Linked DNA regions of Homo sapiens: regions 1, 2, 4 and 5 are each linked to region 3. Evidence: fine-mapped expression QTL. A gene starts in region 3. Each other region holds a variant in brackets. All regions are shown on one strand. Distances are from middle to middle. Region 1 overlaps TSC22D4-C7ORF61 (TSC22D4-C7orf61 readthrough). Region 2 holds the start of SPDYE3 (speedy/RINGO cell cycle regulator family member E3). Region 3 holds the start of TSC22D4 (TSC22 domain family member 4). Region 4 holds the start of STAG3L5P-PVRIG2P-PILRB (STAG3L5P-PVRIG2P-PILRB readthrough). Region 5 holds the start of STAG3 (STAG3 cohesin complex component).

What was found.
Region 1: its variant is fine-mapped to the expression of TSC22D4 in whole blood (TOPMed, PIP 0.96).
Region 2: its variant is fine-mapped to the expression of TSC22D4 in blood mononuclear cells (TOPMed, PIP above 0.99).
Region 4: its variant is fine-mapped to the expression of TSC22D4 in whole blood (TOPMed, PIP 0.97).
Region 5: its variant is fine-mapped to the expression of TSC22D4 in whole blood (INTERVAL, PIP 0.95).

What each region holds. Positions count from the first base shown.
Region 1 is chr7:100,454,068-100,459,933 of GRCh38, reverse strand. TSC22D4-C7ORF61 (TSC22D4-C7orf61 readthrough) reads left to right here. Exons shown (of 6, transcript NM_001395846.1): 6 at 2,949-3,314. The coding sequence ends at 3,182. SPACDR (sperm acrosome developmental regulator) reads left to right here. Exons shown (of 3, transcript NM_001004323.3): 3 at 2,949-3,314. The coding sequence ends at 3,182. Among named protein-coding and RNA genes, the nearest start is that of SPACDR, 7.3 kb to the left of the region's middle. RefSeq lists a silencer at 2,670-2,832. The variant G/A (reference allele first, on the strand shown) is at 3,380.
Region 2 is chr7:100,304,413-100,310,278 of GRCh38, reverse strand. SPDYE3 (speedy/RINGO cell cycle regulator family member E3) reads right to left here and starts at 2,577. Exons shown (of 11, transcript NM_001004351.5): 1 at 2,288-2,577; 2 at 1,087-1,305. The coding sequence starts at 2,393. The variant C/T (reference allele first, on the strand shown) is at 2,444.
Region 3 is chr7:100,477,009-100,482,874 of GRCh38, reverse strand. It overlaps TSC22D4 (TSC22 domain family member 4), which reads left to right and starts at 3,661. Exons shown (of 5, transcript NM_030935.5): 1 at 3,661-4,081; 2 at 4,568-5,598. The coding sequence starts at 4,837. TSC22D4-C7ORF61 (TSC22D4-C7orf61 readthrough) reads left to right here and starts at 3,661. Exons shown (of 6, transcript NM_001395846.1): 1 at 3,661-4,081; 2 at 4,568-5,598. The coding sequence starts at 4,837. RefSeq lists enhancers at 3,146-3,255, 3,956-4,025 and a silencer at 3,346-3,505.
Region 4 is chr7:100,335,937-100,341,802 of GRCh38, reverse strand. STAG3L5P-PVRIG2P-PILRB (STAG3L5P-PVRIG2P-PILRB readthrough) reads right to left here and starts at 5,738. Exons shown (of 17, transcript NR_036570.1): 1 at 5,466-5,738; 2 at 3,539-3,624; 3 at 2,914-3,030. It also overlaps the pseudogene PMS2P1 and the pseudogene STAG3L5P. RefSeq lists a silencer at 5,370-5,439 and an enhancer at 5,758-5,866. The variant G/A (reference allele first, on the strand shown) is at 3,399.
Region 5 is chr7:100,177,637-100,183,358 of GRCh38, reverse strand. It overlaps STAG3 (STAG3 cohesin complex component), which reads right to left and starts at 5,441. Exons shown (of 34, transcript NM_001282717.2): 1 at 5,354-5,441; 2 at 2,687-2,866; 3 at 1,167-1,269; 4 at 520-636. The coding sequence starts at 2,802. RefSeq lists a silencer at 5,667-5,716. The variant A/C (reference allele first, on the strand shown) is at 2,037.

The DNA of each region.
Region 1 (5,866 bases), 23 kb after region 3:
TGGGTGACAGAGCGAGACTCCATCTAAAAAAAAAAAAAAATCTAAATGTGGATGTTCACAGCAGCTTGATTTGTAATAGCCAAAATCAACCCATGTCCTTCAGTGGGTGAATGGTTAAACTGTGATACCTTCAAACCCCAGAATACTACTCAGCAATAAGAAGGGACAAACTGGCCAGGAGCAGCGACACACCTGTGATCCTAGCACTTTGAAACACCAGGCAGAAGCATCGCTCGAGCCCAGGGTTTCGAGGCCAGCCTAGACAACATAGTGAGACCCCGTATCTGCAAACAAACAAAACAAACACACAAATAAATAAAATTCTAAAAAGACGGAAAGGACAGGGCCGGGCGTGGTGGCTCATGCCTGTAATCCCAGCACTTTGGGAGGCCAAGGCAGGCATATCACCTGAGATCAGGAGTTCGAGACCAGCCCGGCCAACATGGTGAAACCCTGTATCTACTAAAAATACAAAAAAATTATCTGGGCATGGTGGTGGGCTACTCGGGAGGCTGAGGCAGGAGAATCGCTTGAACCTGGGAGGCGGAGGTTGCAGTGAGCTGAGATCATGCCACTGCACTCCAGCCTGGGCAACAAAAGTGAAACTCTGCCTGAAAAAATAAAGGCCGGGCACGGTGGCTCACACCTGTAATCCCAGCACTTTGGGAGGCCGAGGCAGGCGGATCTCGAGGTCAGGAGATCAAGACCATCCTGACTAACAGGATGAAAGCCCGTCTCTACTAAAAAAAAAAATACAAAAAAATTAGCCAGGCGTGGTGGCAGGCGCCTGTAGTACCAGCTACTCGGGAGGCTGAGGCAGGAGAATGGCGTGAACCCGGGAGGCGGAGCTTGCAGTGAGCCAAGATTGTGCCACTGCACTCCAGCCTGGGTGACAGAGGGAGACTTCGTCTCAAAAAAAAAAAAAAAAAAAAGGTAAAAAGGACAAACTATTGATACACACAGTAACGTGGGTGTGAATCTTGAGGGAAATTTTTTGTTTTGTTTTGAGACGGAGTTTCACTCTCATTGCCCAGGCTGGAATGAAGTGGTGCGACCTCGGCTCACTGCAACCTCCGCCTCCCAGCTTCAAGCTATTCTCCTGCCTCAGCCTCCCGATTAGATGGGACCACAGGTGCCCACCACCACACCCAGCTAATTTTTTGTATTTTTAGTAGAGATGGGGTTTCACCATGTTAGCCAGGCTGGTCTGGAACTCCTGACTTCAGGTGATCCACCCACCTTGGCCTCCCAAAGTGCTGGGATTATAGGCATGAGCCACTGGGCCCGGCCTCAAGGAAATTATACTGAGTGGAAACAACCAATCCTAAAAGGTTATATTCTGAATGATTCCGTTTATATTATCTACCACTCTTGAAATAACAAAAGTCTAGAAATGGCAAACATATTAGTGGCTCAGTGGTTTCCAGGGGCCACAGAGATAGGGGGAGAAGAGTGTAGTTATTAAAGGACAACATGAGGGACACTTGTGATGATGCAAATGTTCTGTATCTTTTTTTGTTTTGTTTTTGTTTTTTGCTTTCTCCTGTCTGATGGAAATGTTCTGTAGCTTTCTGTTTTGTTTTGTTTTTATGTTTTTGTTTTTTGTTTCTCCTGCCCGATGGAAATGTTCTGTACCTTGACTGTGGTAGTTGGATACATGAACCTGCATACTGGATAAAACTTGGTAAAATTATACACACACACACACACACACACACACACACACACACACACACACCAGTGAGTACAAGTACAACTGGGGAAATCTACATAAGATCAGTAGATTGGATCAATGTCAATATCCTGACTATGATATAATAGTATAGATTTGCAAGATTTTCCTATGAGGTGAACTCAGTAAAGGGTGCACAGGATCTCTATGATTTCTTCCAATTGCAGGTCAGTCAGTCTACAATGATCTCAAAACAAAACAAAACAAAAAAACAGTTTAAGCCGAGCGTGGCGACTCACGCCTGTAATCTCAGCATTTGGGAGGCTGAGGCAGGTGGATCACTTGAGCTCAGGAGTTCAAGACCAGCCTGGGCAAAACCCCATTTCTACAAAAAAAAAAAAAAATATATATATATATATACACACACACACACACACACACACACACACACACACACATATATATATATAAAAGTTAGCCGGGCATGGTGGTGCACGACTGTAGTCCCAGCTACTCAGGAGGCTGAGGTGGGAGCATCACTTGAACTTGGGAGGTGGAGGTTGCAGTGAGCTGAGATTATGCCACTGCACTCCAGCCTGGGTGACAGAGTGAGACCTTGTCTCAAAAAAAAAAAAAAAAAAAAGGCCAGGCATGGTGGCTCACGCCTGTAATCCCAGCACTTTGGGAGGCCGAGGCCGGCTGATCACTTGAGGTCAGGAGTTCGAGACCAGCCTGGCCAACATGGTGAAACCCCTTCTCTACTAAAACTACAAAAATTAGCTGGGCGTGATAGCGAGCACCTGTAATCCCAGCTACTCAGGAGCCTGAGGCAGAAGAATCGCTTAAACCCAGGAGGTGGAGGATGCAGTGAGCTGAGATCATGCCACTGTACTCCAGCCTGGGTGATAGAGCAAGACTCCATCTCAAAACAACAAAAAAAAGAAGAATAGAACTGATGGGCCAGGTGTGATGCCTCACGCCTGTAATCCCCAACACTTTGGGAAGCCAAGGCAGGAAGATCTCTTGAGCCCAGGAGTTCGAGACCAGCCTGGGCAACATAGCAAGACCCCGTCTCATTAAAAAAAAAAAAAAGGATAGAAATGACAAACATTTGATGCAACCTGAGAAGGCTTTCTGGAGGAGGTGATGTATGAGTTGGGCTGATGGGAGAGGTGGAATCAGGGAGCCCTTTGCTGTTTATCTATGGGTCGTTCTAGCGGCAGTTTCTCCCTAGACCCAGCTATTTACGCATGCACATCTTCTCTTTCTCTTACAGTCATCAGTGAGTTCTGCCTCAGTCAGCTCCCAAGTGAGGACGCAGTCACCTTTGAAGACTCCGGAGGCTGAGTTGCTGTGGGAGGTGTACCTGGTGCTGTGGGCCGTTCGGAAACACCTGCGCCGGCTGTACCGCAGGCAGGAGAGGCACAGACGGCACCACGTCCGATGCCATGCTGCCCCCCGACCCAACCCGGCTCAGTCCCTGAAACTGGATGCCCAAAGTCCCCTCTAGGGGGAACCCCAGACCCTTAGAGAGTCCTGACCTCACTCTTACCTGGGGTCCCATATCAGCCCCTTCATTCCATGTATTCCAGTTGTAAAACAAGTATCAAAATATTGGGAAATAAATATCAGATAGTTCTGAGTCAGTATGGAGTGTGTTTGTGGACGGCGGGAGGGGATGAGAGGAGTTTGGGTGGGTCAGGGAGA[G/A]ACCCCTAAGGTGAGGGCCTAAATCCCAGTAGGGGTCACCTGTGGGTCTATTTGGGGGGAAGCATGGTCAGCACGTTTCTGCTCTGGGTCCCACCCCCTTCTTGGGGCCAAAATGCCTGTTTGTAACTCCACCTTTCCTTATAAGGACGGTAACAGCTGCCATTCACCAAGGACCCAGTCCCGTCAGCTGCTGTCCTTAGCGATCCTACAAGAAAGGTATTTAGGGTGGATTACGGGACTTGTCCAAGGCTCAGCAAAGGAGGCCTTGCTGGAAACTGCCAGCTCCCAGGGGTAGCCCACTACCCTGCCTCTCTGGTGCTGAAGGGCTTTGCCATGGGCTTGGCTGTGGAGAGTTGTGCGTCTGCAGACGCACATGGGGGCTGTGGGAGATGCATCCACGTGCTGTGAAGGAACTCCAGCCCCGCTGCCTGCTGCCCGCGCCTCACCAAGAGCTGAAACTACACCTCCAGGGGGCTCTACAGGGACCATGCTCACGGCAGGGCCGGGTGAAGGCTGCAGCCTAGGAGCTGGGTGAGGGATTTGGCCTGGCACCGTGGGAATAAGGACCTAGAGGGAGGCTGTGGCAATTTGGAAGGAGGTTGGAGGGCAACGGAGACAACAAGAAGGGAGACCCAGCAGCCTCAGGTCCCCTCTCGGAGTAGCCAAGCCACATGAAGGTGCAGAGGTGGCTCTCCAGGAAAAAGCAGGGTTGTTTCACAAAAGCAACAGCAAGGCCGGGCACGGTGACTCATGCCTATAATCCCAGCACCTTGGGAGACTGAGGCGGGAGGATTGCTTGAGCTCAGGAGTTTGAGACCAGCCTGGGCAACATAACAAGACCTTATCTCTTAAAACATCTTTTTCACATGGTGAAACCCCGTTTCTACTAAAAATACAAAAAATTAGCTGGGTGTGGTGGCATGTGTCTATAATCCCAGCTACTTGGGAGGCTGAGACAGAATAATTTGAACCCGGGAGGCAGAGGTTGCAATGAGGTGAGATTGCACCAGTGCACTCCAGCCTGGGCAACAGAGTGAGACTCTATCTCAGAAAAAAAAAAAAAAAGAAAGAGAAAAGAAAGGTCATGTAGCTTTCATTCTGCACATGTTACACAGCAGGTGTTCAACACATGAGTTAAGTGACTTCACTGGGAATCAGTCCTGAGTGAAGCCTAAAGTCAAAGCCTGCTTTCAGGTTTTCAGGCGGGGCCTCAAAACAGACTAATAAAGAGCAGCTCATGTCTGGAGTTTTCAATCACCAATTATTCATCACGTCTCTATTATCTGCCAGGAACCCTTCTGGGGGTGAATGGTGTTGGTGCAGGATCTGAGTCCCAGGAAGCCCTGAGATTTAATGGGTCCTGAGGTTTGGAGTAGTACCTAGCTGTCTAACATCCGGGATCAGCCCCTCCGAGTCTTTAGAGATGAGCTCCTCATCGCTGGGGACCTGAGGTTTCAGTGAGAGGAGGGGAGGGGAGAGTAGGACGAAGCTGGGCCTCTGAGGGTCACTGGTAAAATAGCCTTGCAAGTAGCTACAGGCCCAGGAGCTCATCCAGGCTTGACGCTGTGGGCTTGTGGAAAGGAATACTGCTCTCGTTTGTCTTTGGCTTCTTCAGCTCTTGGGAGTGGAAGGGAAATTAAGGAAGGTGGGTTCAGCCAGCAACCAAGGCACATCCCATCACTCTCTCCTTCCCCAGATCTGGAGCCCTGTCTAGGCTTGGCTGAGCAGGCACAGGCAGACTTGTGGGAGAGGAAGGAAAGGGGTGGGCAGAAGGAAGCTGCCTCTTGATGACAGTTTTTTTGTGTGTTTTTTTGAGATGGAGTCTCACTCTATCGCCAAGGCTGGAGTGCAGTGGTGTGATCTCGGCTCATTGCAACCTCCGCCCGTGGGGTTCAAGTGGTTCTCCTGCCTCAGCCTCTGGAGTAGCTGGGATTACAGGTGCTTGCCACCACACCCATGTAACCGTTTTTGTTTTTTGGTTTTTTTTTTTTTTTTTTTGAGACAGAGTCTCACTCTGTCACCCAGGCTGTAGTGCAGTGGCATGATCTCCGCTGACGGCAAGCTCCGCCTCCCGGGTTCACACCATTCTCCTGCCTCAGCCTCCTGAGTAGCTGGGATTACAGGTACATGCCACCACGCCCGGCTAATTTTTTTTCGTATTTTTAGTAGAGAACGGGGTTTCACCATGTTAGCCAGGATCGTCTTGATCTCCTGACCTCGTGATCCGCCTGCCTTGGCCTCCCAAAGTGCTGGGATTACAGGCATGAGCCACCGCGCCTGGCCACACCCGGCTAACTTTTGTATTTTTAGTAGAGACAGGGTCTCACCATGTTGTCCAGGCTGGTCTTGCACTCCTGACCTCAGATGATCCACCTGTCTCAGCTCCCCGAAGTGCTAGGATTACAGGCGTGAGCCACTGCACCCGGCCAGTGGTTTTTGTTTTTTAGAGACAGGGTCTGGCTCTGTTGCCCAGGCTGGAGGGCAGTG
Region 2 (5,866 bases), 170 kb after region 3:
CCATCCTCCCCAGCCTCTCAGACTGCTGGCTTCTCCAAGCCACCTTTCTGACTTTCTCCTCTGCTCAACCCCATGTGCCACTCCTTCCCCTCCCCATTCTTCCCTCTCTCTGTCCTCAGAACACTGCGTCATATCGTTCCCTGGTCCCTGGCTCTCTGAGGCCCTCTTTTTTTTTTCTGTTTCGAGACAGAATCTTGCTTTGTCACCCAGGCTGGAGTGTAGTGGTGCAATCTCAGCTGACTGCAACATCTATCTCCCGGATTCCAGTTATTCTCCTGCCTCAGCCTCTCAGGTAGCTGGGATTACAGGTGCCTGCCATAATGCCCAGCTCAATTTTGTACTTTTAGTAGAGACGGGGGTTTCACCATGTTGGCCAGGCTGGTCTCAAACTCCTGGCCTCACGTGATCCACCTGCCTTGGCTTCCCAAAGTGCTGGGATTACAGGTGTGAGCCACTGCACCCAGCCTGAATTTCTCCATTCTTCCCACACACCCTCCCCAGGTTCTCCTTCCTGACCTCTGACCCTTCTTTTTTTTCTTCTTTTTTTTTTTTTTTTTTGAGACAGCGTCTCACTCTCTCACCCAGACTGGAGTGCAGTAGCACGATCTCGGCTCACTGCACCCTCTTCCTCCCAGGCTCAAGCGATTCTCCTGTCTCAGCCTCCCGAGTAGCTGGAACTACAGGCATGAGCTACTGTGCCCAGCCTTGGTTTTTCTTTTGACGCAGAGTTTTGCTCTGTCACTCAGGCTGGAGTGCAGTGGTGCAGTCATAGCTCACTGCAGCCTCGAAGTCCTGAGTTCAAGCAATCCTCTTGCCTCAGCCTCCCAACGTGCTGGGATCTCAGGCGGGAGCCACAGCGCCTGGCCCAAAACCAAGCTTTCTTATCCCAAGCACCGACCTTTATCAAGTCTACCTAATCCTCTGTTGTCTCCTAAGTGTCCCTCATGAGTGATCACTTCAGAGTCCTCCCGCATGGAGAGCTCACCCACTGGGGCATATTTTTCCCATTGGAAAAGTGTGGTTATTGGAAGTTTCCTCTTTTTAGAAAGAACAGGATTGGAGGTGCTCTCTGGGGTGTCCTCCTACCAAGCAGCCTGTTGAAGGCCTCGTAGTACTCAGGGAGCACGAGCGACACTCGCCGTCGCTTCGCCTTCATCTTGAGGCCACACAGCGTCTCCGCCACCCAGGTCTCCTCAGGCTCAGGGGCGAGCTCCTTCTCTGGCTCATCATCAGATTCATCCAAACACTCCCTCTTCCTTTTGCAGCCAAGGGACCTACGTGGGGGGCTGGGATCTACCCCAGGGGCTGAGTAAAGAAACCAGGCCACCGTGTAATGCTTCTGCAACTGATCACGTTAGACCCCGACCCCAAACCCCAAACCATTCTCCATCCTCCCCAGCCTCTCAGACTGCTGGCTTCTCCAAGCCACCTTTCTGACTTTCTCCTCTGCTCAACCCCATGTGCCACTCCTTCCCCTCCCCATTCTTCCCTCTCTCTGTCCTCAGAACACTGCGTCATATCGTTCCCTGGTCCCTGGCTCTCTGAGGCCCTCTTTTTTTTTTTTTGTTTCGAGACAGAATCTTGCTTTGTCACCCAGGCTGGAGTGTAGTGGTACAATCTCAGCTCACTGCAACATCCATCTCCCGGATTCCAGTTATTCTCCTGCCTCAGCCTCTCAGGTAGCTGGGATTACAGGTGCCTGCCATAATGCCCAGCTCAATTTTGTACTTTTAGTAGAGACGGGGTTTCGCCATGTTGGCCAGGCTGGTCTCAAACTCTTGGCCTCACGTGATCCGCCTGCCTTGGCTTCCCAAAGTGCTGGGATTACAGGTGTGAGCCACTGCACCCAGCCTGAATTTCTCCATTCTTCCCACACACCCTCCCCAGGTTCTCCTTCCTGACCTCTGACCCTTCTTTTTTTTCTTCTTCTTTTTTTTTTTTTTTTTTTGAGACAGCGTCTCACTCTCTCACCCAGACTGGAGTGCAGTAGCACGATCTCGGCTCACTGCACCCTCTTCCTCCCAGGCTCAAGCGATTCTCCTGTCTCAGCCTCCCGAGTAGCTGGGATTATAGGCACACACCACTACCGCCTGGCTAATTTTTGTACTTTTAGTAGAGATGGGGTTTCACCATGTTGGCCAGGCTGGTCTTGAACTGCTGACCTCAGGTGATCTGCCCGCCTCGGCCTCCCAAAGTGTTGGTGTTACAGGGGTGAGCTACCGCACCTGGCCCCCTTCCTTCGTCTTAGTCAATCCTATGCCACCTCTTCTTCCTCCAGTCCCCTCACCTGATGGTCCCGACACTTCATCATCCACCACCTCCTGGAGGGGGTACCCTGAGGTGCTCCGCTGGGGGCTCTGCTCTTCCTGGGGCTGCGGTTGATGGCTCGTCATGATCTTTCCCAAAATCTGTCCAATCTCACCGAAGCTAGTCTCTGTTCTGT[C/T]CTTGGTCTTCTTCTGGACACTGCTGGGATCCAGAAGAGTGTGTTATCAATTCTCGAGGCTGGGAGAAGTCAGGAGTGGAGAACAGCTCTGAGAAGTTACTGTTGTTCACCTGAACTGCCAGGCGCCGACAGAGTCCGGTCCTTCCAATCAGGAAGGTCGGAATCTCTGATGTCATAGGTCATTCCAACCTGGCAACCAGTTTGAACAAAAACACATGTAACTGCCAGGCTGATCTCTTGTCCTGGAGATCCTGGGTGAATGGTATCTCCTGCCACTGTCCCAACCTCAGACCACTGTCCAAAAGCATCTTCAGGGTCTCCGCATCCCTCTGTTCCCTGTCCCAGCAGAGGCTGTGTCCTCTCCACTCAAAGCTTGAAGCGTGTTGGGGTCTCCTCTTCTCTGTACATGCCCGTTTCAGAGTCCAGTCTGGTGGGAGAGGGATCAGGATGGGAAAGAAAACTAGGGTAAGCAGAAACGATGAAACCTTATAAGAGTGAGAGTATCATGTACAAGAGATCCCAGGAACATTGACTTGATGAAAAAGTCACATCAGAGCACTCAATTTGGCAGAGCTTTTCTGCCGAATGTTTACTGATATTCACTGTCCGAGATTCTGTACTGGGTGTAACGTGTCCTCTGCCCTAAGGCATCTTTGAGTCCAAGAGATATTTTGAGGACTGGAAATCATCGGAAACTGCCCATGAGCTCACACATATTTCCAATGGTGTCCCCAGTTTCAGGGAGTCCACGGATCACCTAAAGCCAGCCCCTCCAGTTTGGCTAAGAAACTCTATATATCAAGTTTTGTATCATATGTATTGCTCTTAACTCAGAAATTCCACCATTTATAGCAGTGGTTTATTTATTTATACTATTGAAGGAAATGGTTTATTTATGAATCTATATTATGGATATTCTATAAGATACTGGGTGTACAAAAAGACTAAGTCGAAAAATCTCAGCTGTGCACAGTGGCTCATGCTTGCAATCCCATCTCTTTGGGTGGCCAAGGGAGGAAGACTGCCTGAGGCCAGCAGTTCAAGACCAGTGTAGGCAACATAGCAAGACCCCATCTCAAACAAAACAAAACAAAACAGAACAAAATTAGCCAGGTGTCGTGGCTGGCACCTGTGTTCCAACAACTTGAGAGACTGAGGTGGCAGGAGGATTGCTTGAGCCTAGGAGTTAGGGGCTGCAGTGAGCTGTGATCGTGACACCGCACTCCAGTCTGGGCAACACAGCAAGACCTTGTGTCAAAAAAATTTTTTTAATTAAATATAAAAGAGTTTCATGACATTCAGAGACCATCCAAAGAACCTGTGGGTTCCGGCCAGGCACAGTGGCTCACGCCTGTAATCCCAGCGCTTTGGGAGGCCATAGCAGGTGGATCGCTTGAGGTCAGGAGTTTAAGAGCAGCCTGGCCAACATGGTGAAACCCCATCTCTTCTAAAAATACAAAAAATTAGTCAGGCATGGTGGTGGGTGCCTGTAATCCCAGCCACTCAGGAGGCGGGGGCAGCAGAATGGCTTAAACTTGGGAGGCGGAGGTTGCAGTGAGCCAAGGTCGCACCATTGCACTCCAGCCTGGGCAACAAGAGCAAAACTACATCTCAAAAAAAAAAAAAAAACAAACAAAAAGAACCTGTGGATGAGTTCCCACATGGCTTCCTAACGGGCTGCGGCTCTCCTAGGAGTCTCTCGCTCATGGGAAAGGCACAAACTGAATGTGGAAGGAAATCCCATTGCTGTGGAAGTCCCATTGTTAGGAAGCTCTGCTTTTCTGGAGTTCAAATTTGCATTCATGACGCTTTAAACCGTCAGAGCTGGGTGTGTCCTCCTACAACAAATCACTTTACTCTCTCTCTCTCCTAGTTAACAGGCTTTCAAATATTAGAACATCCATGTTCTGACCTCATTAAAATTGCTCTTTTGTGGAATGAAAAGCTCTGATTTAACCCGTCTTTAAGCCTGGTATGCATATTCCTCTCTGTTCCGGCCACCTTGTCTAGACACACTACACTGAGGCAGTGCCCATCTTAGATGATGTTGATACATTGTCAAAAAATGGGCAAACCAGGCGCGGTGGCTCACACTTGTAATCCCAGCACTTTTGGAAGCCGATGCCGACAGATAACCAGAGGTGAGGAGGTTGAGATCAGCCTGGCCAACATGGTGAAACCTGTCTGTTTTTCTGTAAAAATACAGAAACAATGAGCTGGGTGTGGGAGTGCACTTCTGTAATTCCAGCTACTTGCGGGGCTGAGGCAGGAGAATCACTTGAACCGGGATGGTGGAGGTTCCAGTGAGCCGAGATCACGACACTACACTCCAGCCTGGGCGACAGAGTGAGACTCCGACTCAAAAAAAAAAAAAAAGTGCCAGACAGCCCAGGTTTGGTCTGATATGTTCAGAAAAAAGCAAAACAGTCACCTCTCACCTTTTCTTTTCCTGCAATGATGCCGTTTAATACAACAATGGCTGTAGGTCTGCGGCAGAAATATCATTCAAGTGAAACAGAAGGGCTTTCCTGGCTGGACACAGTGGTCACTCCTGCAATCCCAACACTTTGGTTGGCTAAGGTGGGAGGATTTCTTGCGGCCAGGAGTTCGAGGCTGCAGTGAGCTGTGATCTACCACTGCATTCCAGGCTGGGCATCAGAGTGAGGCCTGTCTCTAAAAAAAACCCTTCACTCCCCAAAAAAAGGGATTTTCAAATACCAGCCTTTCAGCATGAGGATCACATGGAGGAACATTAAGACACAGATGCTGGGACCCAGCCCTATTGATTGTAATTAAAAAACTGAGGTGAGGCCTGATTTAGCTCCATCATTGGAATCCATTCAGATTTGAAATTCTCTGAGTTGGACAGTGCAAGAGAGATCCTAAAGAAAGCAAAGTCACCGTGGACTGAAATGAGCTGACAAGGTTTTCTGAGCGTGGTGAAATATGATCTGGGCCTTGCTTGGGAGGGCTGTGGCCAGGCCTTGAGTCCGTGGCTCAGTGGGACCTTCTGAAACAGCCTCCAATCCGTGCCCCCACTTCATTTGCTAGTGGATGACCCCCTCCAGTGGCTTTGGTGCTGATGGGAATAAGTCGACCTGCAGCGGAAGTTCAGCCCAAGTTTTAGCCCAGCAGCTTCTCCACACCTGTCCGTGGTCTGGTCATGCCGCCGTCTCTGCGGTTCTCTGCGGAGTCGTGGTTTCTGTACCTTGAAGAGAACTTCCCCTCTGGGACCCAGAAACCCAGTGAATCCTCAGGAAAAAAGGGAATGAAATTACTGAAGACAACTCTGTGGCGGGGAGATGGAAAAGAGGCTCTCTCTCTTTTTTTTTCCTAATATTTTGAGACAGAGTTTCGCTCTTGTCACCCAGGCTGCAGTGCAGTGGCTCCATCTCGGCTCACTGCAACCTCTGCCTCCCAGGT
Region 3 (5,866 bases):
TTTCCATGGCAGCGTCTTTGCAGTCTTGCTGTGTGGCTTTAGGCAGATCGTGCAACCTCTCTGAGAGACGCTTTAGTCCGGGGATGTCCACTCTTTTAACTTCCCTGGGCCACATTGGAAGAAGAATTTGTCTTGGGCCACACATAAAATACTCTTAACACTGGCGGGGCGCGGTGGCTCACGCCTGTAAATCCCAGCACTTTGTGAGGCCGAGGCTGGTGGATCACCTGACATCAGAAGTTTGAGACCAGCCTGGCCAACGTGGCAAAACCCCGTGTCTACTAAAGATAGAAAAAATAAGCTGGGCATGGTGGCCTGCGCCTGTAATCCCAGCTACTCGGGAGGCCAAGGCAGGAGAATCGCTTGACCTGGAAGGCAGAGGTTGACGTGAGCCCAGATCGGGCCACTGCACTCCAGCCTGGGTGAGAGAGAGAGACTTTGTCTCAGAGAAAAAAAAAAAAAAAACGAAAACAAAAACAAAAACCAAAACTTAGGCGTTTTAAGAAAATTTACCAATTTGTCTTGGGCCACAAGCTGCCCGTGCGGTTGGACAAGCTGGCTTTAGTCCATTCTTTGGAAGGGGAGGGGTAGTAAAATAATACCAAAGTGCCTTGTAAATTGTAAAAGGTCCCACATATTATAGGCTATTAAGAATGCTCCCAGGGGAGGGAAATATTAAAACACTTAAAACCCATTTCACATTTATACCTTTAGTATGATTAGTTTATATGTATAGGCCGGGAGCAGTGGCTCACGTCTGTAATCCCAGCACTTTGGGAGTCTGAGGCATGCAGATCACTTGAGGTCAGGAGTTCGAGACCAGCCTGGCCAACATGATGAGACGCCCATCTCTACTAAAACTACAAAAATTAGCCAGGCGTCGTGGCGGGTGCCTACAATCCTGGCTACTCGGGAGGCTGAGGCAGGAGAATCACAACCTGGGAGGCGGAGGTTCAGTGAGCTGAGATCACGCCACTGCACTTCAGCTTGGGTGACAGAGCAAGACTTCATCTCAAATTAAAATATAAAAATTTGTATGTATTTACTCAACAAACATTTCTGCAGAGATCAACAATGTGCCAGGGCCTCTAGACTCAGATACCAGTGCCTGAGGCAGAGAAAGAGACTGCCCAAAGATAATTTTTGAATAGTTTGTAGCAAGTCAGCAAGAAGGAAGGAGGGTCTGGGGAAGGAGGGACCAAGGCTGTGTTCTGAATGTTGCTAGAGGAGAAAAGGTTCTGTAAGGGACAGAGGGATGCAGTCTAGAGGGGTAGGGAGCAGGTGGGAGGCTGCTTCCCAGACTTCACTACTTGGGAGGCCCACAGACTTGGGCTATGGCAGCCGTTGTTACTATGGCTTAAGGGAGAGAAACAGAAGTGTGGATGCTTCTAACAAAGAGATAAAGAATAAATACATAAAGAGGGTAGGTATTGCATTGTTTTATTTTTACGTACCCCTAAAGAGGGGTTAGAGGCCGGGCGTGGTGGCTTATGCCTGTAATCCCAGCACTTTGGGAGGCCGAGGCGGGCGGATCACGAGGTCAGGAGATCAAGACCATCCTGGCTAACACGGGGAAACCCCGTCTCTAGTAAAAATACAAAAAATTAGCCGGGCATGGTGGCGGGTGCCTGTAGTCCCAGCTACAGGCTGAGGCAGGAGAATGGCGTGAACCCGGGAGGTGGAGCTTGCAGTGAGCCGAGATAGAGCCACTGCACTCCAGCCTGGGCGACAGAGCGAGACTCCGTCTCAAAAAAAGAGGGGTTAGAAATTTCCCTGAGGCCAGGCACCATGGCTCACGCCTGTAATGTCAGCTCTTTGGGAGGCCCAGGTGGAAGTATCATTTGAGGCCAGGAATTCGAGACCAGCCTGGGCAACATAGTAATAACCTGTCTCTACAAAAACTAAAAAATTAGCCAGGTATGGTGGTATACACCTGTGGTCCCAGCTACTAGGGAGGCAGAAGCAGGAGGATCACTTGAGGCCGGGAGTTCAAGACCACCCTGGGCAACATTGCAAGATCCCCATCTCTACCAAAAAAAAAAATTTTTTTTTAAAGAAATTTAGCCAGGCGTAGTAGTGTGTGTCTGTGGTCCCAGCTACTTGGGAGGCTGAGGCAGGAGCATGGCTTGAGCCCAGGAGTTCCAGGCTGTGGTGAGCTATGATCGCACCACTGCACTCCATCCTGGGCAACAGAGAGAGAGAGAGACCCTGTCTCTAAAAAAAAAGGCGGGGGCAGGTTGGGGGAAAGGGGAATAGTATAACATCTAGGATCTGATTTCAAATAGTCCAGCAAACTACAGCTGGCCCCCACACAATGTCATTTCATTGAATGTCATTTCATTATAACATTGATGATTTTCTAAAAATTGATTTTGGGCTGGGACCACCATCTGTGTGGAGTTTGCATGGTCTCCCCATGTCTGCATGGCATGTTTGAAAATTTTCATAATAATCCACTTTTTTTTTTTTTTTGAGACATGGTCTCACTCTGTTGCCCAGGCTGGAGTGCAGTGGCACAATCTTGGCTCACTGCATCCTCAACCTCCTGGGCTCAAGAGATCCTCCTGCCTCACAGCCTCCTGAGTAGCTGGGACTACAGGTATACATCACCACACTCAGTTTTTTTTTTTTTTTAAGATGGAGTCTCACTCTGTCACCAGGCTGGAGTGCAGTGGCGTGATCTCGACTCACTGCAACCTCCGCCTCCCAGGTTGAAGTGATTCTCCTGCCTCAGCCTCCCGAGTAGCTGGGACTACAGGTGCCCGCCACCACACCTGGCTAATTTTTGTATTTTAAGTAGAGACTTGGTTTCACCATGTTGGCCAGGATGGTCTTAATCTCTTGACCTCGTGATCCGCCCGCCTCGGCCTCCCAAAGTGCTAATTTTTTAAATTTTTTGTAGAGATGGGGATCTCGTTATATTGCCCAGGCTGGTCACGAACTCCTGGGCTCAAGCGATCCTCCCACCTTTGAGTAGCTGGAATTATAGGTGCACATCACCATGCCCAGCTATTTTTTTTTATTTTTTGTAGAGATGGGGTCTTGCTATTATATTGTCCAAACTGGTCTCAAGCGATCCTCCTTCCTCGACCTCCCAAAGTGCGGAGATTACAGGCATGAGCCACCACCGGGATCCGGCAATAATCCACTTTTAAAAATAAGGAATGGGGGGAATAATGCAGTTGCTGTGAAAACCAAAGGAGAATGACAGTAACAGCCACAGCTGCCCCACAGCAGGGACTGGGAACTTCTGGGTGGGCATGCAGCACACCTCCCGGCCTGTGCCTTCCGTCTCTTCTGTGTGTCTCTAGGCCAATGGCAGCAATTGACTACAAGTAAGGGAATCCCTCGCCTCCCTGCAAGCTCCTCCCCTTTCTCCCCGAGCCCCGCCCCCTGCAGCCCCTCCCTGCAAGAGTGGGGCTAGGGCCCGGCAGGTGTGGGGTTAAGGGAGTCTGTTTGGGGCCCCCAGGAGCAGCAGCCTAAGCAGTGGCTGCAGCAACTGCAACAGCAGCGGCTGTGGCAGGCCTGGCCCCGGGCCAGCTGGCGGGAAGCCCCAGGAGGGAGGGAGGGAGGAGGAAGGGGAGGAAGAGGGGAAGGAGGAGGAGGAGGAGGAGAGGAGCAGTCAGCAGGCCCGAGGAGGCAGGACTTCCTGGTGTGGGGGTTGTCAACAGCCCAGAAAGAGAAAGACGGAGAGGCAGAGACCCAGGGGAGCCGAGGAGCGGAGACACGGACCCAGCAGGGTCACGCGGGAGGAGACTCGGGACACCCACTCGCTGGCTGCCACCGGGAGCAGAGGGGGGCTCGGCCGCCCCCTCCCACATCAGTCTCCAGACCCTTGGGGCTTCAGAGGCCGCTCCTAGGCTCCTCGGAGGAGGCGCGGGTTTCTTCTTTTCCGGAGAGCAAACTTTCCTCGGAGATGCCTGGCAGGATGAGCCGCGGCCCCCGGAGAGGACGGGACAGCCTCTGATCGCCGCCTGCGTGCCCCGCCACTGCCCATGGCCAGGAGGCCCCAGGGAACGGACAGCCCGACCTCTTAGGCGCCGGGACCCTCAGGCTCAGATCAGTGGCCGAGGCCCCAGAGGTAGGGTTCAGGGCTGGGTGGGGCGCTGGGGGGTAGCCGGGCAGGGCCTGCCCCAGAGATGTGGGAGCTGGGGTGAGGGTGGGGGCTCGAGGCCCAGGAGAGGTCTCTCTGAGTGGCCGGGCCAGGCTGGGGAGCTGCTTCAGCCTGGTTCTCCCAGGCCCTGGAGTCCGAGCTCTTGGGACAATACGGGCCCCCTGAGTCAGAATCCCAGGCGAGAAATGCCCAACTCTGGGACTCATCTGCCTCTTTCTACTCTGAGTGCCTTCTTGGATCCAGTCCCCTCTGCCCTGGTCTCTGTCATCTCTTGCCTGTCTCTGGGTCTCTGACGGTTTCCCCTTCCCCCACTCTGCTCCCCGGAGAGGAAGCCCCGGAGGTGGCCTGCCCACTGGTTTCACACACACACACACACACACACACACACACACACACACACACACACACACTCTCTCTCTCTCTCTCTCTCTCTCTCTCCCCCTCTTTTTCCAGTTTGCAAACTCAGCTCTGGAGTTCAGCAGCAACAGCAGCAGGAAAAACCTGCCCCTGCTCCCCCCTCCCGCCACCTCCCCTCTCCTCTTCTCCCCTCACCCAGCAGGCACCCCCGGTTCCCGCCAGGCCCTCCTGCCATGTCGGACCCAGACGTCCCCAGGGGCTCGGATGTCCCCGCCATGTGGCCCCCTTGTTCCAGGGGTGCCTGAGCCCCTTCAAGGAGCCCCAACCCACCCCCAACCTTGGCCCAGCCCTGAGCCCCAGGGACCATGAGCGGGGGCAAGAAGAAGAGTAGTTTCCAAATCACCAGCGTCACCACGGACTATGAGGGCCCTGGGAGCCCAGGGGCTTCGGATCCCCCTACCCCACAGCCCCCAACCGGGCCCCCGCCCCGCCTGCCCAATGGGGAGCCCAGCCCCGATCCGGGGGGCAAGGGCACCCCCCGGAATGGCTCCCCACCACCTGGGGCCCCTTCCTCCCGTTTCCGGGTGGTGAAGCTGCCCCACGGCCTGGGAGAGCCTTATCGCCGCGGTCGCTGGACGTGTGTGGATGTTTATGAGCGAGACCTGGAGCCCCACAGCTTCGGCGGACTCCTGGAGGGAATTCGAGGGGCCTCAGGGGGCGCCGGGGGCAGATCTTTGGATTCCAGGTTGGAGCTGGCCAGCCTCGGCCTGGGCGCCCCCACCCCACCGTCAGGCCTGTCTCAGGGCCCCACCTCCTGGCTCCGTCCACCCCCCACCTCTCCTGGACCTCAGGCCCGCTCCTTCACTGGGGGACTGGGCCAGCTGGTGGTGCCCAGCAAAGCCAAGGCAGAGAAACCCCCACTGTCGGCCTCCTCACCCCAGCAGCGCCCCCCAGAGCCTGAGACCGGTGAGAGTGCGGGCACATCCCGGGCTGCCACGCCCCTGCCCTCTCTGAGGGTGGAAGCGGAGGCTGGGGGCTCAGGGGCCAGGACCCCTCCACTGTCCCGGAGGAAAGCTGTAGACATGCGGCTGCGGATGGAGTTGGGTGCTCCAGAAGAGATGGGGCAGGTAAGACCTGGGTTCTAGGGCTGGCCCATCAGCCCTGGCCTAACCTCTATCTTGAGCCTCCTTCCTCCTCCTCCCCCCCCTCTCCTCCTCCTTCTCCATCACTTTATAAGATCAGATAGCCCTCTTCTCTGTGCCTGCCAGGTCACTCTGAAGCCCCTTCCTCCTACTTCATTTTCTGTCTCAGCCTCCTTCCTGTTTTTCTGCACCCTCTCTCTTTCTCCCTGGCCTCTGATTCTCTGTCTTGGTCTTCATGTAGCCTGTAGCATAT
Region 4 (5,866 bases), 140 kb after region 3:
TCACTTGGATTTTAGGGTTGGACATTTAGAGTAACTCCTTAGTTTCCTTTTAACTCTCAGATACTGTGATTTGATCAAATTCCAAATTATGACAGGTATCTTTCGGATGAGAGGATAAAATTTCCTTTGGAAAGAACCCATGGATGAAGGCTGCCAGGACACAGGGTCTGGCCTGGCTCACGTGGGTGAGACAGGTAGTTTCACAAGGTCCTGCTCCACTCTGCCACCTGTCAGCACAACTTTTACTACTGCAGAGGCTGAGGCCACTAGATAAACTACTCACAGGCAGTCAAACTCTCCCCATCTCTACTGCCTCACCCCGCCTCTCAGTTACTAAGCAATACTTCCTGGAGAGCCTGTAGACAAAGCACCTGCGGGGTGTGGGGACACCTATACACTGGGCCATGGGACAAGGCGGACCAAGAACCTGACCTCCATCAGTTTAACGATCTCAAGCCACACCTTGGGAACGTGTGGATTCAAACATGTTTATTGAGTGAATCATTAGGACACAAAATAGGCTGAAAAAGATGTTCCAAAAATCCAGGAGACTATGGGCTACTTCCATTAAACACAGAGGTGCTGCCCTTCTCCACTCCAAACAGAACAGGAAAAAGGCAAGGGGACTGGGCCACAGTGCATTAGGGAGGACAGGGTCTCTCGGCTTCTCTACCCCAACATCACCAGAGGGAAAGGTTAGGTTAGAAAAACAATGCCCCACTCTTTCCCCTCAGAGCCCAGGGCTGAAGCCTGGGGGAATGCTTCATTTTGCTCCTTTTCTCTTTGCCTTTTCCAAATGGTCACATTCTTGAGGTAGGGAGTGGAGCTGGGGAGGGGCCCAGAGTCCTGTCAGAAATCCTATAATGAGAAAGATGAAAGGAATACACAGGTGCACCACCACGCCCAGCTACCTTTTCGTATTTTTAGTAGAGATGGGGTTTCGCCATGTTGGCCAGGCTGGTCTCGAACTCCTGACCTCAAGTGATCTGCCCGTCTTGGCCTCCCAAAGTGCTGGAGTTACAGGTGTGAGCCACTGCACCCGGCCTCCATACCTCTTTTAAAAACCAATTTTGAAAGTTCATTCAGGCTGGGCATGGTGGCCAAAAATTAGCCAAGCATGGTGGCGGGTGCCTGTAGTCCCAGCTACTTGGCAGGCTGAGGCAGGAGAATCGCCTGAACCCGGGAGGCGGAGGTGCAGTGAGCCAAGATCGCGTCACTGCACTCCAGCCTGGTGACAGAGCAAGACTCCGTTTCAAATAAAAAACTAACACACTGTACAACTGCATGTAAGGTGGAAAAGACAACTGGAATTAAAATGTGCTCAGGTCCTTGTAGAAGATAAGAAATCCAGAGGAAAGTAAGCAAAGGGGGAAAAAGAAACAGAAAAGATAAAACGAATGTACCAACTCAATACTAGGCCATAAGGCTAAGTCTCCATAAATGTCTTTTTTTTTTTTTTTTTTTGAGACAGAGTATCACTCTGTTACCCAGGCTGGAGTGCCATGGCACAATCTCAGCTCACTGCAACCTCCACCTCCTGGGTTCAAGCAATTCTCATGCCTCAGCCTCCCAAGTGGCTGGGATTACAGACAAATGCCACCACATGCAGCTAATTTTTGTATTTTTAGTAGAGATGGGGTTTCGCCATGTTGGCCAGGCTGGTCTCGAACTCCTGGCCTCAAGTGATCTGCCTGCCTCAGCCTCCCCAAGTGCTGGGATCACAGCTGTGAGCCACTGCGCCCAGCCCCTACATAAATTTCAAACACCACATTCCCTGACTACAACACAATAAAGTTAGAAATCAAATAACGAAAATATAACTAGCAAAATTCTGTATGTTTGAAAATTTTAAATATTTTCCCAGAAACTATAAAATTACACATTAATGTGGATAAATCTCAAACAATGTTAACTGAAATAATTAAATCACAGAAGCCTGAATAATGGATTCATTTACATAATTAAAGAACACATTCATAGTGGTAACACTATAATGAAATGACAAAGATTAACACAAAATTCACCCTAGTGTTTACCTATGGGTAATAAGGGGACTGTGAGGTAGGGTAGAAAGAAGGTACACAAAGGATCTCTACAGCACTATTAATGTTTCATTTCTTGAGCTGGGGCTAGAGATCTGGGTGATATCTCATTTTTATTTTTTAAACTACATATACGCTTTGTACACTTTCAGATATTAGAACTTCAATAAAATTATAAAAAAAGAAACAGAGAGAGGGAAAAATAATTAAGTATAATTGTCAAGATGGAGCTAAAAAATAACATGGGTGAACAAGGTGCCACCCACATCTAAGCTTCCTTCCCATGTCATGCAATGCCTCTCCCCATCTGCTCCATCAATCAACAAAGGCATAATCACTCCTGTGATACCTTTAAGAAAAGAACACGCTTTAAGAAAAGAAACGCTCTCTCGAAGCCGGGTGCGGTGGCTCACACCTGTAATCCCAGCACTTTGGGAGGCCGAGGCAGGCGGATCACCTGAGGTCAGGAGTTGGAGACCAGCCTGGCCGACATGGCGAAACCCCATCTCTACTAAAAATACAGAAATTAGCTAGGCATGGTGGCACATGCCTGTAAGCCCAGCTACTTGGGAGGCTGAGGCATAAGAATCGCTTGAACCCAGGAGGCAGAGGCTGCAGTGAGCTGAGACTGTGCCACTGCACTCCAGCCTGGGCAACAGAAAGAGACTCTGTCTCAAAAAAAAAAAAAAAAGAACATGCTCTCTTATTCAAGGTTACCCTTCTATCACTCCAAGGATTCACCCCATAATCTTATCTTTCTTGATATGTTACACTCACTAAAATGTTCACATCAAATCAAGTTTGTAGACACTTGTCCTTACCACCTTACAAAAAGTGAGATGGTATCAACAGAGGTAAGACACTGCTTTACCTGCATGTCACTTTTGGCAGCTTTCGCAGCATTGAAAAGATCATTGGCTGGTGGCTCTGACTGTTTCCAGCTATGACGATGTACCACTTGGGACCCTTTCTTTGGATGTTTTGCCACCTGATACACATAAAAAGATCAGAAATATGAAAAAAAGGTAACAGTGACATTAACACTTGGTTTCATCATTATCACACAAGTAGGCTTACGCTGCCAATTCCACAGCAGAGTCTGAGTTAGACTCAGTCCTAAAATAATTGATTTTTATATTATGAAGTTTATTAACTTTTTTCCCTTTAAAAAAAAATTCCTTGAGTCCCCTTCCTGTATCTCTATAACCAAACATCCTTTTCTTTTCTTTTCTCTTCGAAATTTCTCTTCTTCCTATTTCCGTCCCTTAATACTTTGTAAATCTTGTCCTTTTTTGAACCATATCACCTGAACCTCTTAGGTTTTCTCTTTTTTTTGAGACTGAGTCTCGCTCTGTC[G/A]CCCAGGCTGGCGTGCAGTGGCGTGATCTCGGCTCACTGCCAGCTCTGCCCCCGGGGTTCGTGCCATTCTCCTGTCTCAGCCTCCCGAATAGCTGGGCTGCTTCCCTGACAAGATTCAAAAACAAAACTGGCTGACTCACCGGCATTGTTTTCAGTGGTCGTTTTGTTGCTTTCTTCTTCACACCGCGATTGAAGCTGTCCTCAAATCATTTTCTTGTCTTCTTGTCTATTTGTATGAATTACTGAGTTACATTCTCATTGCTACTTATTTAAGCAAAGTATTCTTAGTTTGTTAACAACAAAGAACTACAAATTGTGTTCATTTTCTGTCCTTTCCTGTTCTTAGACTAAATTACCTGAAATACATCAAAATATATGCTGTATGCTTACCTATATCAAAACTATGTTGTTTAGGTGCCGGGCACGGTGGCTCACACCTGTAATCCCAGCACTTTGGGAGTTCAAGGCGGGCGGATCGCCTGAGGTCAGGAGTTCAAGACCAGCCTGGTCAACATGGCAAAACCCCGTCTCTACTAAAAATACAAAAATTAGCCAGGTGCAGTGGACAGCGCCTGTAATCTCAGCTACTCATGAGGCTGAGGCCTGAGAATTCCTTGAACCCAGGAGGCCAAGGTGGCAGTGAGCCGAGATCATGCCACTGCACTCCAGCCTGGGTGACAGAGTGAAACTCCGTCTGAAAAAAACAAACAAACAAAAACAAACAAAAAACCAGACCATATTGTTTAGGGATACTTAGCTGACAAAATAATAGAGACAAGCAGGACATAATTACCATAAAAATCGGGCCCTGGGATGTTGGTGGGGAAGGTTTAAGTGGAAAGAATGGAGCGGTCACAATGTGTGTCAACCTGGGAGGTGGTGACCCTGGGGTTCGCTTTGTAATTCCTCAAAATGAGCATTTATGTGCTACTCACTTTTCAGAGGATAGAATTCTGAACTAAAATGTTTAAGCAGCCATACGCAAAAAAAAAGAAAAAATATGGATAGATTTTTATTTTAATTAAAACATTTAAAAAATAGAGACAAGGCAGCTGGGCGTGGTGGCTCACGCCTGTAATCCCAGCAATTTGGGAGGCCGAGGCAGGCGAATCACGAGGTCAGGAGATCGAGACCATCCTGGCTAACACGGTGAAACCATGTCTCTACTAAAAATACAAAAAAAAGTTAGCCAGGCATGGTGGCGGGCGCCTGTAGTCCCATCTACTGGGGAGGCTGAGGCAGGAGAATGGCGTGAACCCGGGAGGTGGAGCTTGCAGTGAGCCGAGATCAGGCCACTGCATTCCAGCCTGGGCGACAGAGCAAGACTCCAACTCAAAAAAAAAAAAAAACATAGAGACAAGGGTCTTGCTATGTTGCTCAGGGTGGTCTCAAACTCTCCGGGCTCAAGCAATCCTCCCGCTTCGGTCTCCCAAAGCGCTGAGATTCCAGGCGTGAACCACCGCGCTCGACCAGGAAAGATATATATATATATAATATATATTTTATAATATATCATGTTATATATTACACATAATATACAATATGTATAATACGCATAATAAAGGTATATTTAACATATATAAAAATATATATATATATAATAATTTTTTTTTTGAGACGGAGTTTCACTCTTGCTGCCCAGGCTCGAGTGCAATGGCTCGATCTCAGCTCACTGCAAGCTCCGCCTCCAGGGTTCAAACCATTCTCCTGCCTCAGCCTCCCGAGTAGCTGGGATTACAGGCGCCCGACACATGCCCGGCTAATTTTTGCATTTTTAGTAGAGACGAGGTTTCACCATGTTGGCCAGACTGGTCTCGAACTCTTGATCTCAGGTGATCCGCCCGCCTCGGCCTCCCAAAGTGCCGGGATTACAGGCGTGAGCCACGGCGCCCGGCCTGAATAAATCTTTTAAAACATAAAAATCTGGGTGACCCCCTGGCCGGCCGGCACAGATGCCGGGGTGGGGCCGCGAATCGGTTGGGACGCACTCTATCCGGCCTAGGGGCACCTGGGCCAGCAACGGGCCGCCGCGCGTGCGCAGTGGGCGGGGGGGCCCCGCGCTCCTACCTGCAAGTGGCCAGTGCCGAGTGCTGGGCCGCCGCTCCTGCCGTGCATGTTGGGGAGCCAGTACATGCAGGTGGGCTCCACACGGAGAGGGGCGCCGACCCCGTGATAGGGCTTTACCTGGTACATCGGGGTGGCGCGTGCCAGACACCAACGGTCGGAAACCGCCAGACACCAACGCTCGGAATCCACGCCAGGCCACGACGGAGGGCGACTACCTCCCTTCTGACCCTGCTGCTGGCGTTCGGAAAAAACGCAGTCCGGTGTGCTCTGATTGGTCCAGGCTCTTTGACGTCACGGACTCGACCTTTGACAGAGCCACTAGGCGAAAAGGAGAGACGGGAAGTATTTTTTCCGCCCCGCCCGGAAAGGGTGGAGCACAACGTCGAAAGCAGCCGTTGGGA
Region 5 (5,722 bases), 300 kb after region 3:
TAATCACTCCTGTGATACCTTTAAGAAAAGAACATGCTCTCTCAAAGCCAGGTGCAGTGACTCACGCCTGTAATCCCAGCACTTTGGGAGGCCAAGGTGGGCGGATCACCTGAGGTCAGAAGTTGGAGACCAGCCTGGCCAACATGGCGAAACCCCATCTCTACTAAAAATACAAAAAGTAGCTGGGCGTGGTGGCACACGCCTGTAATCCCAGCTACTTGGGAGGCTGAGGCACAAGAATCGCTTGAACCCAGGAGGCAGAGGCTGCAGTGAGCCAAGACTGTGCCACTGCACTCCAGCCTGGGCGACAGAAAGAGACTCTGTCTAAAAAAAAAAAAAGAACATGCTCTCTCATTCAAGGTTACCCTTCTATCACTCCAAGGATTCACCCCATAACCTTATCTTTCTTGACATGTTACACTCACTAAAATGTTCACGTCAAATCAAGTTTGTAGACACTTGTCCTTACCACCTTACAAAAAGTGAGATGGTATCAACAGAGGTGAGACACTGCTTTACCTGCATGTCACTTTTGGCGGCTTTCACAGCATTGAAAAGATCATTGGCTGGTGGCTCTGACTGTTTCCGGCTATGACGATGTACCACTCGGGACCCTTTCTTTGGATGTTTTGCCACCTAATATGTATAAAAAGATCAGAAATATGAAAAAAAAACAAAAAAGGTAACAGTGACATTAACGCTTGGTTTCATCATTATCACACAAGTAGGCTTAAGCTGCCAATTCCACAGCAGAGTCTGAGTTAGACTCAGTCCTGAAATAATTGATTTTTATATTGTTATGAAGTTTATTTTTTTCCCTTAAAAAAAAAGTCCTTGAGTCCCCTTCCTGTATCTCTACATCCTAACGTCCTTTTCTCTTCTTTTCTCTTCAAAATTTCTCTTCTTCCTATTTCCATCCCTTAATACTTTGTAAATCTTGTCCTTTTATGAACCGTATCACCTGAACCTCTTTTAGGTTTTCTTTTCTTTTTTTTTTTTTGAGACGGAGTCTCGCTCTGTCGCCCAGGCTAGAGTGCAGGGGCGCAATCTCGGCTCACTGCAAGCTCTGCCCCCTGGGTTCACGCCATTCTCCTGCCTCAGCCTCCCAAGTAGCTGGGCTGCTTCCCCCACAAGATTCAAAAACAAAAGAAAACTGGCTGACTCACCGGTGTTGTTTTCGGTGGTCGTTTTGCTGCTCTCTTCTTCACATTGCGATTCAAGCTGTCTTCAAAGTCAGTGTCTTCATCAGCTAACAAAGAGTCGCCATTCCTGTGAGAAAGTATGGTTCTCTTTAAATATAACCACCCTATTCCCTCCATATAAAAGGCTAATTAATTATGGTTTCTCTGTCTCTCACCGCACCCCATCTCCATGAGAAAAACATATCCAGATTTTAAGAAAAAATGAGCTTATTGTTAGTAGGAAGTTGGGACAAAGTCTTTTTTTTTTTTTTTTTTGAGACGGAGTTTCACCCTTGTCACCCAGGCTGGAGTGCAATCGCATGATCTCAGCTCACTGCAACCTCCGCCTCCCAGGTTCAAGCGATTCTCCTACCTCAGCCTCCCGAGTAGCTGGGATTACAGGTGTTTCACCGTGTTGGCCAAGGTGGTCTCAAACTCCTGACTTCAGGTGATCCACCCGCCTCGGCCTCCCAAAGTGTTGGGATTATAGGCATGAGCCACCACACCCGGCCGGGACAAAGCCTTAAAGGAAAACTTTCACATGAAAGCAATGGAGATGAAGAATGAGGAAATGAGGCAGGAGAAGGACAACTCTTCCTAGTATTCTCTCCGAAGAAGAGAATCAAATGATACTCACTTAGCAGGTAGCGAGATCACTGCTCTTTGTAGAGAAAGATAATCATGGCTCAGGAAGTCATCTATCATTCATCCATAAATGGGAGAGTAATATGTATCTAGAGTTAAATTTCACCCCCTTGAAACATAAACCACATGTCTTATCAATTCAAGTTTATAACTTTGATATAATCTGGTCCCCCACAGCAGCACTGACAGAAACAGAAATGATTCAGAGAA[A/C]GCCAATTAAAACAGCCAGGGGATAAAGCAGATCTGTATGAAATTCGCTTTTTTCCTTCTGGAAAGGTAAAAAACCAAGATATATTATTATAACCTACACAGAATAAACTCATATATGGTAATAAATAAGGATACACAGACCTATTTACAAAATCCCCAAGTAGAAGAAATAGGGGACACTAGCCAAAAAGTATATACAATTTACCAGGCAACAAATAAAGAACTCTTTACTCCCCCATCTGCCAGCTCTCAGCCCCCACCAGGGTTGGTACATGCTGAACATAGAAATGTGTTTAAGAGAGGTTTAGACAAGATGGATGATGGATTAAAAACAGGATGTGCTTGAACCCAGGAGGCGGAGGTTGCAGTAAGCCGAGATCGCGCCACTGCACTCCAGCCTGGGCGACAGGGCGAGACTCCGTCTCAAAAAAAAAAAAAAAAACAGGATGTACTACTATTTTGATGTCTACAACATCTAGGACCGCCAAAAAAAACACCTGGAGCTGGAGGGAGGGTGTCACTGTGCTGAACGAGTATAGCACTTCTGGTGTTTTCACACAGTCCCACGCATATTATCATCAATGTGGGAAAACGAGGGGGAAGGCTGCCAGGGACACAGGAAGTGGCCACACAATGCAACATCTACTTACCCCTCTGAGGTATGGTTTGAGTCCCTGTCATCAAAGGGTAGACTGGCAGAGGAACTAGAAGATGCAGACAAGGCCCTCTTGGTATCTCCCACAGCTCTTTGCAACGGGGAAGACATGCTTGGAGAGGAGGAGCTATGAGGCCAGGAAGATGAGGACCACAGGGTAGGTATGGCGATCCAGCTGGGGAAGAAAGAGAAGAAAGGGCTCCTACCACAGCACTTCTCCATCCCCAGCCCTGACCAGTCCCTTTCTTTCCAAGGGAATGGTTCTAGAACTCTGGGGTCAGGTGAGGGGGACCAAAAACTAAGACAAAGGCTGGGCACCGTGGCTCATGCCTATAATCCCAGCACTTTGGGAGGCCAAGGCAGGAGGATGGCTTGAGCCCAGGAGTTCAAGACCAGCCTGGGCAATACAGCAAGACCCCATTTCTAAAAAAAAAATAATAATAATCATTAGTCAGGTGTGGTAGAGCATGCCTGTATTCAGCTATTCAGGAGGCTGAGGTGGGAGGATTGCTTGAGTCCAGGAGTTCAAGGCTGCAGTGAGCTACGATCGCACCACTGTACTCCATCCAGCTTGGGTGACAGAAGAAGACCCTGTCCCCCCTCAAAAAAATAGTAATGATAAATAAGACAAATGGCTGGGCACAGTGACTCATGCCTGTAATCCCAGCACTTTGGGAGGTCGAGGCAGGCAGATCACCTGAGGTCAGGGGTTCGAGACCAGCCTGACCAACATGGAGAAACCCCATTTCTACTAAAAATACAAAATTATCCGGGTGTGGTGGCATATGCCTGTAATTCCAGCTACTTGGGAGGCTGAGGCAGGAGAATCGCTTGAACCTAGAAGGCGGAGGTTGTGGTGAGCTGAGATCGTGCCACTGCACTCCAGCCTGGGCAACAAGAGTGAAACTCCATCTCAAAATAAATAAATAAATAAGACAAAGAGCTGACCTAAGGCATCAAGGGATTAAGCACAACAACACCCCAGAAACTGGCCAGCAGGTTTGGAGTTGCTCTCCAAAAGCTGAGGAAGTCACACACCAGGGTAGCTTCAGACACATCTCTCTCTAGAGGCTGTGGAAGTGCAAACTGCCTACTGCAAGGAAATTTAACTCATAGGTATTTTCTTTAAAAAAAAAAATTGCACACTGGGTGTGGTAGATCATACTTGTAATCCCAGAACTTTAGGCGGCTGAGGCGGGAGGACTGCTTGAGCCCAGTAGTTCAAGACCAATCTGGGCAACATAGCAAGACCCCATCTCTACAAAAAATAAGCAAAAACTAGCTAGGTGTTGTTGCGCACACCTGTGGTCCCAGCTACTCAGGAGGCTGAGACAGGAGGACTGCTTGAGCCCAGCAGTTTGAGACCAGCCTTGGCAACATGAGACACACCCAAAAAAAAAAAAACAAAACCCAAGCAAGGTACACACCAGGGCAGCTTCAGACACAGCCCTCTCTAGAGGCTTCAGAAGTGTAAACTGCCTGCTGCAAGGGAATTTAACTCATAATTAAAAAAAAAAAAAAAAAGGCAAGGTGCCCAGGGTGGCTCAAACCTGGAATCCCAGCACTTTGAGCAGCTGAAGCAGGAGGACTGCCTAACCCTACGAGTTCAAAATCAGTCTGGGCAATATAGCAAGATCCTGTCTCTACGAAAAAACCAAACCAAAACCAAAAAAACTAGCCAGGTGTGGTGGTGCACCTGTAGTCCCAGCTACTCGGCAGAATGAAGCGGGACGATCGCCTGAGCCCAGGAGGTCGAGGCTGCAGCGAGCTATGACTGCACCACTGCACTCCAGCCTGGGAAACAGAGCGAGACTCTGTCTCAAAAAAAAAAAAAAGTAATGACAAATAAATAAAATAAGGCAAAGAGTGGACCTAAAGCACCAAGGGATTACAGACACCAGAAACTGGGCAGTGGGTTTGGAATTGCTCTCCAAAAGCCGAGGCGTGGTGCACAGTGCTCCCGCCTATAATCCCAGTACTTTGGGAGGGCGAAGCGGGAGCATCGCTTGGGTCCAGGAATTCAAGATCAGCCTGGGCCACATAGCAACGCCCTGTCTCTAAAAAAAAAAAATTAAATGGAAAAAAAAAAAAAAGCCAAGCAAGGCAGACAGCAGGGCAGCTTCAGACGCACCCCTCTCTGGAGGCTTCGGAAGTATAAACCGCCCTCTGCAAGGGAACTTACAGGTTTTTTAAAATGAAATAAAAAAAATAAAGAAAGAAATAAGAAAAAAAATACAAGAAGACCCCAGGCTTTCGTTTCCAGAGGACTAGCACCTGATTCCACCTGGAATGGAACAGGAGGCTCTTAAGGATTTGGGGGTGGAGGCGCCATGAGAATAGGGCTGGAAACGCAAAAGGAGGAAAGGCAGGTGCGCGTTTCCTATTTTTCCAGAAGGTAAAAATATCTACGACTGCCCCTGGGGTAAGCGGCTCCAGGATAAAGAGCCTTCCAAGCGCTTAAGAGAATGGACTCTCAGTCTATGGAGGCCTGGGGAGAGGATTCTCCAGCTCTGTGGCGGAGGCCATTGGGGCACGGCCCGGGAAGGCTCCTAGTGTCAGGGCCGGGAGGGTCGCGAGAGGGCCTATTCTTGGGTCAAGGAGAAACCTGTCAGAGCCTGGAAGAGTGACTTCTGGCCGAGCAGGGTTCAGGGAAGGTCCCCACCTCAGGTCCCTCGGGTGTCTCTGGCCACCCCACCTTCCACACAGGCGCCCGCCGCTGCCCTTCCGGGGGCGAAAGATTCCAGAAAAGCGCGGGAACGTACAAGACACGCTGTGCGCAAGCGCAATCCCAACGGCTCGCCCAGGGCCAGTAGCTATCGCGAGGTTTGGAAGTGTGCGAGCTGATGCGCGCCACGTTTGAGTCACGCCGCTCCACAGCCTCGTGTGGCCTCAAGCTCTCAGGCGTCCTGCCCTCTCACGTGGGCTTGGGCACGCGGGCGGCCCGCTTTAGCCCCGCCCCCACCCAGGTCCCACCCCCGCTACCCTCAATCTCCTACTCCATTGGGCGGGTTTTGGACCAGACTGCTAGTAA